Regions from separate parts of the Homo sapiens genome. Here region 2 is linked to region 1. The links come from fine-mapping of genetic effects on plasma protein levels. A gene starts in region 1. The other region holds a variant in brackets. All regions are shown on one strand. Distances are between the middles of the regions.

Region 1 (2,913 bases):
CAAGGTTCATTTCAATTATGGTCTCTGGGAAGTCTTTCCCTTTCCCCACCCCATGGAGCCTAACTACTTCAGGCCCAGTTACGCTTTGCTAGCACTTTGAATATTCTGTACCCTATATCATTGCATTATTTACTTGTCTTTCTCCCACCTGTAGATGGTGTATACTGTTAGAGGACAAGAACCTGCTTCTAGCCATCTTTGCGTCTCCAGGACCTGACTTGTGACCATTCAATAAGAGTTTGATAGATGGACAGACTAATGAATAGATGAAGATGATTAGAAGCCAAAATTTCTGAATCTTCCTAGCACCCAGAACATGGCTTAACATCAAGGAAATGCTCACTAAATACTGTCATAATGGAATGAATGGAACCGATGCCTAATTGAAAATCATTAGGCTGTAAACCATTTCCATGTTCCAATTTCTTCGTTTATAGAACAGAAATGATAGTGTAACCACCTGAAAATCCTTCACCTAGACTTCCAAAACCACACCCACCTCATCAATGAAGTCTGACTCTCTAGAAAGAAGCAAATGACTGAAATCATGGTCCTGTGCCTTGACCAAAATACCATTCGTCAGAACAAAAGAAGTAGGTCAGTGAAACGGCATTAGTATATCCTTCAACAGGCAAATAAGTGATAGTGTAGTTTGCTTTTGAAGTCGCTGTGAAAAGTTTTAGGTGAACATCACCTACACCACATTAAAAATGGAATCAAGTCATTTTCTTTAAGAAATGGAGTTTGAGATATGAGAATTCTTTTGGGCTTTTTCTACTTATTGGCCAATTATACACCCAGATATATTTCTGCAATATTTCAAAGATTCTAGTTCTAATTTGTATAATAAAAAAAATTAACAGCCTTTTCCAGACCACATGTTTCCAACAAGACCTTCAAAGGCCTCGCTCGCTATATAAAACTGGCTTTAAACAATTTCCTTTCCCAAAGAAGGAAATAAGATATTTCGGTTTTGTAAAAGAGGCAAAACCAGGTACAGGCCACCTTTCCTGCTGGAGAGCTGGCATAAGTGAGTGGATTCTTAATTACTATTTTACCTGCGGGGCATAATTACTTACGTGGAGTGAAATAAGGAGCCGTCCTTTTCTAAGTAGCCTTCATAGTGGACCAACATCAAATCCCCTCCTTTGGTCTTGCGATGGCAGATGAATGGCTTCTGGAGAACTTCAATTTTCACTTCTGGTTCAGGGATCAAAGCCCCAATCAAAGAAGTGACGAACAGAGTCAAGACCGCGTTCCACAAGAAAAGCCTCATGTTGCTGAAGCAAGGAAAGAAGTCCCTACAAAAGCAGCGAAAGGTCCCTCGACTTCATAGATTTAAGAACGTAGTTCAAGGCTTACGGACAAGGGCTTCAGACAAGTTCAGGACTCCCCCTTCTTAGAAGACGTGGCACATTTACCACCAACTCTTTTCTCAAGGGTCACGAACCTACCTTTAAAGAGTTAAGCCCAAATGCCGGCCTGACTGGCTCTTATAACGCGGCCGCCTGGGAATAGCAGCCTCCCATTGGCTATTGGTGCTGTCCTTCAGGCAGCTCTCAAGCCAATGACGCTGCAACGATGGAATTTACAGCCCGGTAGAGCCGGGCAGCTGCCAAGCGGCGGATCATCCCTTGTGGTCCTAGAGCCCGGTGGATTTCAGCATTCAACCAGCGTGGATTTTGGGAGAGGGGCGGGGCGCAGAGCCAACCGGAAACTCCTCCGGCTGATTTATCTCTGTGAAGAACCCTGCTGAGAGACGTAGGAAGAGTCCCGGGGCCCTATGAAATCTTCGGGGTTCCAGGAAAGACTCGTTTACTCTCGCCGTTGGAGAGCGGCCCCCCAAGATGCCACAATCCTAGGATTTTGCTATTGCTTATAAACTGTAAAGACTGACATACTGCTTGAGGGTTCACAAAGCGCGTTCCCGTTGCATGAACCTCACTACACCCAGTAAGGCAGGTTCTTTTTTCCCATTTAAAAGAGAAGTAAATTTACACCAGGAGATATTAACTGTCCTGCTTAAGGTTGTTTGGCCCCGAAGCAAATGAGCTCTGCCTTCAAACCAGGTCTGATTCATTCCACAGCACCACGTCATGTTATGGCTGCTAATAATTTATCCCTTAAGTTACCTTACAGGGTAAATAATGAGTTTCGACTTGCAGACTTCCGCTTTAAAGAAGAAATGGTAATCATGGTTACGAATTACACAGCCTCATCGTAGTTTACATTTTCTAGTTTTACATTTTTTGCCTAAGTTCAAAAGTAATGCATGTTCATTGAAGTCATTTTGGAAGAAATTGGAAAGCACTAAAGTAAGATTTCCAGATAATATTGGGGAGTCGAATCAAGTTGGAATTTCAGATACATAACGAATAATGGTTTTGCATTTTTATTTACTAAATCAGGCAACTTTAAAGAAAAAGAAAGCTCGCCGATACCACCACCAGCCGCAAACAATCCTCTTAATATTTTGGTGCATGCTTCTGTGACATATACTTAAAGCGATTTAAATCGTATTGTAGTCTTTTCTCACCTCCTCTTTCCACTTAATCTGTAGTTAACATTTTTTCTGGTCTAATAACCTTAACACAGTGCATATCCGCACTCTATGTGCATAGGAATCCCCCTGAAGATCTTGTTTAAAATGCAGATTTTGATCTGGAGGTCTGGGGTGGGTGCAAGATTCTGCATTTCTAACAAGCTCTTAGGTGATGTCAGTGCTCCGGGTCAGTAGATCAACACTTCCATAGTGAGACCTTAGAGTCTGGACAACATCTGTTTACACTGGCCTCATAGTATTCTACCCTGAAATTCCAATAATCTCTTTACGCCCTGTTATTGGTTACCTCAAGTGTGTGAGATCAATTAGGCAGCTTTGGAACAAGAATAGGGACTAGAACTCAGGAGGTA
Region 2 (2,913 bases), 70 kb after region 1:
TTGAGTTCATTGTAGATTCTGGATATTAGCCCTTTATCAGATGAGTAGGTTGCAAAAATTTTCTCCCATTCTGTAGGTTGCCTGTTCACTCTGATGGTAGTTTCTTTGCTGCGCAGAAGCTCTTTAGTTTAATTAGATCCCATTTGTCAATTTTGGCTTTTGTTGCCATTGCTTTTGGTGTTTTAGACATGAAGTCATGGCCCATGCCTATGTCCTGAATGGTATTGCCTAGGTTTTCTTCTAGGGTTTTTATGGTTTTAGGTCTAACATGTAAATCTTTAATCCATCTTGAATTAATTTTTGTATAAGGTGTAAGGAAGGGATCCAGTTTCAGCTTTCTACATATGGCTAGCCAGTTTTCCCAGCACCATTTATTAAATAGGGAATCGTTTCCCCATTTCTTGTTTTTGTCAGGTTTGTCAAAGATCATATAGTTGTAGATATGTGGCATTATTTCTGAGGGCTCTGTACTGTTTCATTGATCTATATCTCTGTTTTGGTACCAGTACCATGCTGTTTTGGTTACTGTAGCCTTGTAGTATAGTTTGAAGTCAGGTAGCGTGATGCCTCCAGCTTTGTTTTTTTGGCTTAGGATTGACTTGGCAATGCGGGCTCTTTTTTGGTTCCATGTGAAGTCTAAAGTAGTTTTTTCCAATTTTGTGAAGAAAGTCATTGGTAGCTTGATGGGGATGGCATTTAATCTATAAATTACCTTGGGCAGTATGGCCATTTTCACGATATTGATTCTTCCTACCCATGAGCATGGAATGTTCTTCCATTCGTTTGTATCCTCTTTTATTTCCTTGAGCAGTGGTTTGTGGTTCTCCTTGAAGAGGTCCTTCACATCCCTTGTAAGTTGGATTCCTAGGTATTTTATTCTCTTTGAAGCAATTGTGAATGGGAGTTCACCATGATTTGGCTCTCTGTTTGTCTGTTATTGATGTATAAGAATGCTTGGGATTTTTGCACATTGATTTTGTATCCTGAGACTTTGCTGAAGTTGCTTATCAGCTTAAGGAGATTTTGGGCTGAGACGATGGGGTTTTCTAGATATACAATCATGTCATCTGCAAACAGGGACAATTTGACTTCCTCTTTTCCTAATTGAATGCCCTTTATTTCCTTCTCCTGCCTGATTGCCCTGGCCAGAACTTCCAACACTACGTTGAATAGGAGTG[G/C]TGAGAGAGGGCATCTTTGTCTCTTTTGATCTTTGTTGGTTTAAAGTCTGTTTTATCTGAGACTAGGATTGCAACCCCTGCCTTTTTTTGTTTTCCATTTGCTTGGTAGATCTTCCTCCATCCCTTTATTTTGAGCCTGTGTGTCTCTGCATGTGAGATGGGTTTCCTGAATACAGCACACTGATGGGTCTTGACTCTTTATCCAATTTACCAGTCTGTGTCTTTTAATTGGAGCATTTAGCCCATTTACACTTAAGGTCAATATTGTTATGTGTGAATTTGATCCTGTCATTATGATGTTAGCTGGTTATTTTGCTCGTTAGTTGATGCAGTTTCTTCCTAGCCTTAATGGTCTTTACAGTTTGGCATGTTGGTACCGGTGGCTGGTACCAGTTGTTCCTTTCCATGTTTAGTGCTTCCTTCAGGAGCTCTTTTAGGGCAGGCCTGGTGGTGACAAAATCTCTCAGCATTTGCTTGTCTGTAAAGTATTTTATTTCTCCTTCACTTATGAATCTTAGTTTGGCTGGATATGAAATTCTGGGTTGAAAATTCTTTTCTTTAAGAATGTTGAATATCGGCCCCCACTCTCTTCTGGCTTGTAGAGTTACTGCCGAGAGATCAGCTGTTAGTCTGATGAACTTCCCTTTGTGGGTATCCCGATCTTTCTCTCTGGCTGCCCTTAACATTTTTTCCTTCATTTCAACTTTGGTGAATCTGATAATTATGTGTCTTGGAATTGCTCTTCTTGAGGAGTCTCTTTGTGGCGTTCTCTGTATTTCCTGAATTTGAATGTTGGCCTGCCTTGCTAGATTGGGGAAGTTCTCCTAGATAATATCCTGCAGAGTGTTTTCCAGCTTGGTTCCATTCTCCCCATCACTTTCAGGTACACCAATCAGACGTAGATTTGGTCTTTTTACATAGTCCCATATTTCTTGGAGGCTTTGTTCGTTTCTTTTTATTCTTTTTTCTCTAACCTTCTCTTCTCGCTTCATTTCATTCATTTCGTCTTCCATTGCTGATACCCTTTCTTCCAGTTGATCACGTTGGCTACTGAGGCTTGTGCATTCGTCACATAGTTCTCGTGCCGTGGTTTTCAGCTCCATCAGGTCCTTTAAGGACTTCTCTGCATTGATTATTCTAGTTAGCCGTTTGTCTAATTTTTTTGCAAGGTTTTAACTTCTTTGCCATTGGTTCGAACTTCTTCCTTTAGCTTGGAGTAGTTTGATCTTCTGAAGCATTCTTCTCTCAACTCGTCAAAGTCATTCTCTGTCCAGCTTTGTTCCGTTGCTGGTGAGGAGCTGCGTTCCTTTGGAGGAGGAGAGGCGCTCTGACTTTTAGAGTTTCTGGTTTTTCTGCTCTGTTTTTTCCCCATCTTTGTGGTTTTATCTACCTTTGGTCTTTGATGATGGTGACGTACAGATGGATTTTTGGTGTGGATGTCCTTTCTGTTTGTTAGTTTTCCTTCTAACAGTCAGGACCCTCAGCTGCAGGTCTGTTGGAGTTTGCTGGAGGTCCACTCCAGACCCTGTTTGCCTGGGTATCAGCAGCGGTGGCTGCAGAACTGCAGATATTGGTGAACCGCAAACGCTGCTGCCTGATCGTTCCTCTGGAAGTTTTGTCTCAGAGGAGTACCCGGCCATGTGAGGTGTCAGTCTGCCCCTACTGGGGAGTGCCTCCCAGTTAGGCTACTCGGGGGTCAGGGACCCACTTGAGGAGGCAGTCTGCCTGTTCTCAG

Which allele goes with the higher level. Positions count from the first base shown, and alleles are read on the strand shown. Strength reflects both the effect of a copy and how common the allele is.
In carriers of allele C in region 2, the plasma level of the protein whose gene starts at base 1,470 in region 1 tends to be lower than with G alone (weak association).

The links. PIP is the chance, under the fine-mapping model, that this variant and not a neighbour inherited with it causes the effect. The UK Biobank Pharma Proteomics Project read protein levels with antibody pairs (Olink). The fine-mapping took linkage between variants from a reference panel, not from the people measured, so its PIPs are less certain.
Region 2: its variant is fine-mapped to the plasma level of the FKBP14 protein (UK Biobank, PIP above 0.99).

The regions. Positions count from the first base shown.
Region 1 is chr7:30,025,233-30,028,145 of GRCh38, forward strand. FKBP14 (FKBP prolyl isomerase 14) reads right to left here and starts at 1,470. Exons shown (of 4, transcript NM_017946.4): 1 at 1,080-1,470. The coding sequence starts at 1,276. FKBP14-AS1 (FKBP14 antisense RNA 1) reads left to right here. Exons shown (of 3, transcript NR_187577.1): 3 at 155-2,009. RefSeq lists an enhancer at 1,726-1,875.
Region 2 is chr7:30,095,397-30,098,309 of GRCh38, forward strand. It overlaps a transcript of PLEKHA8 not described here. Among named protein-coding and RNA genes, the nearest start is that of MTURN, 38 kb to the right of the region's middle. The variant G/C (reference allele first, on the strand shown) is at 1,179.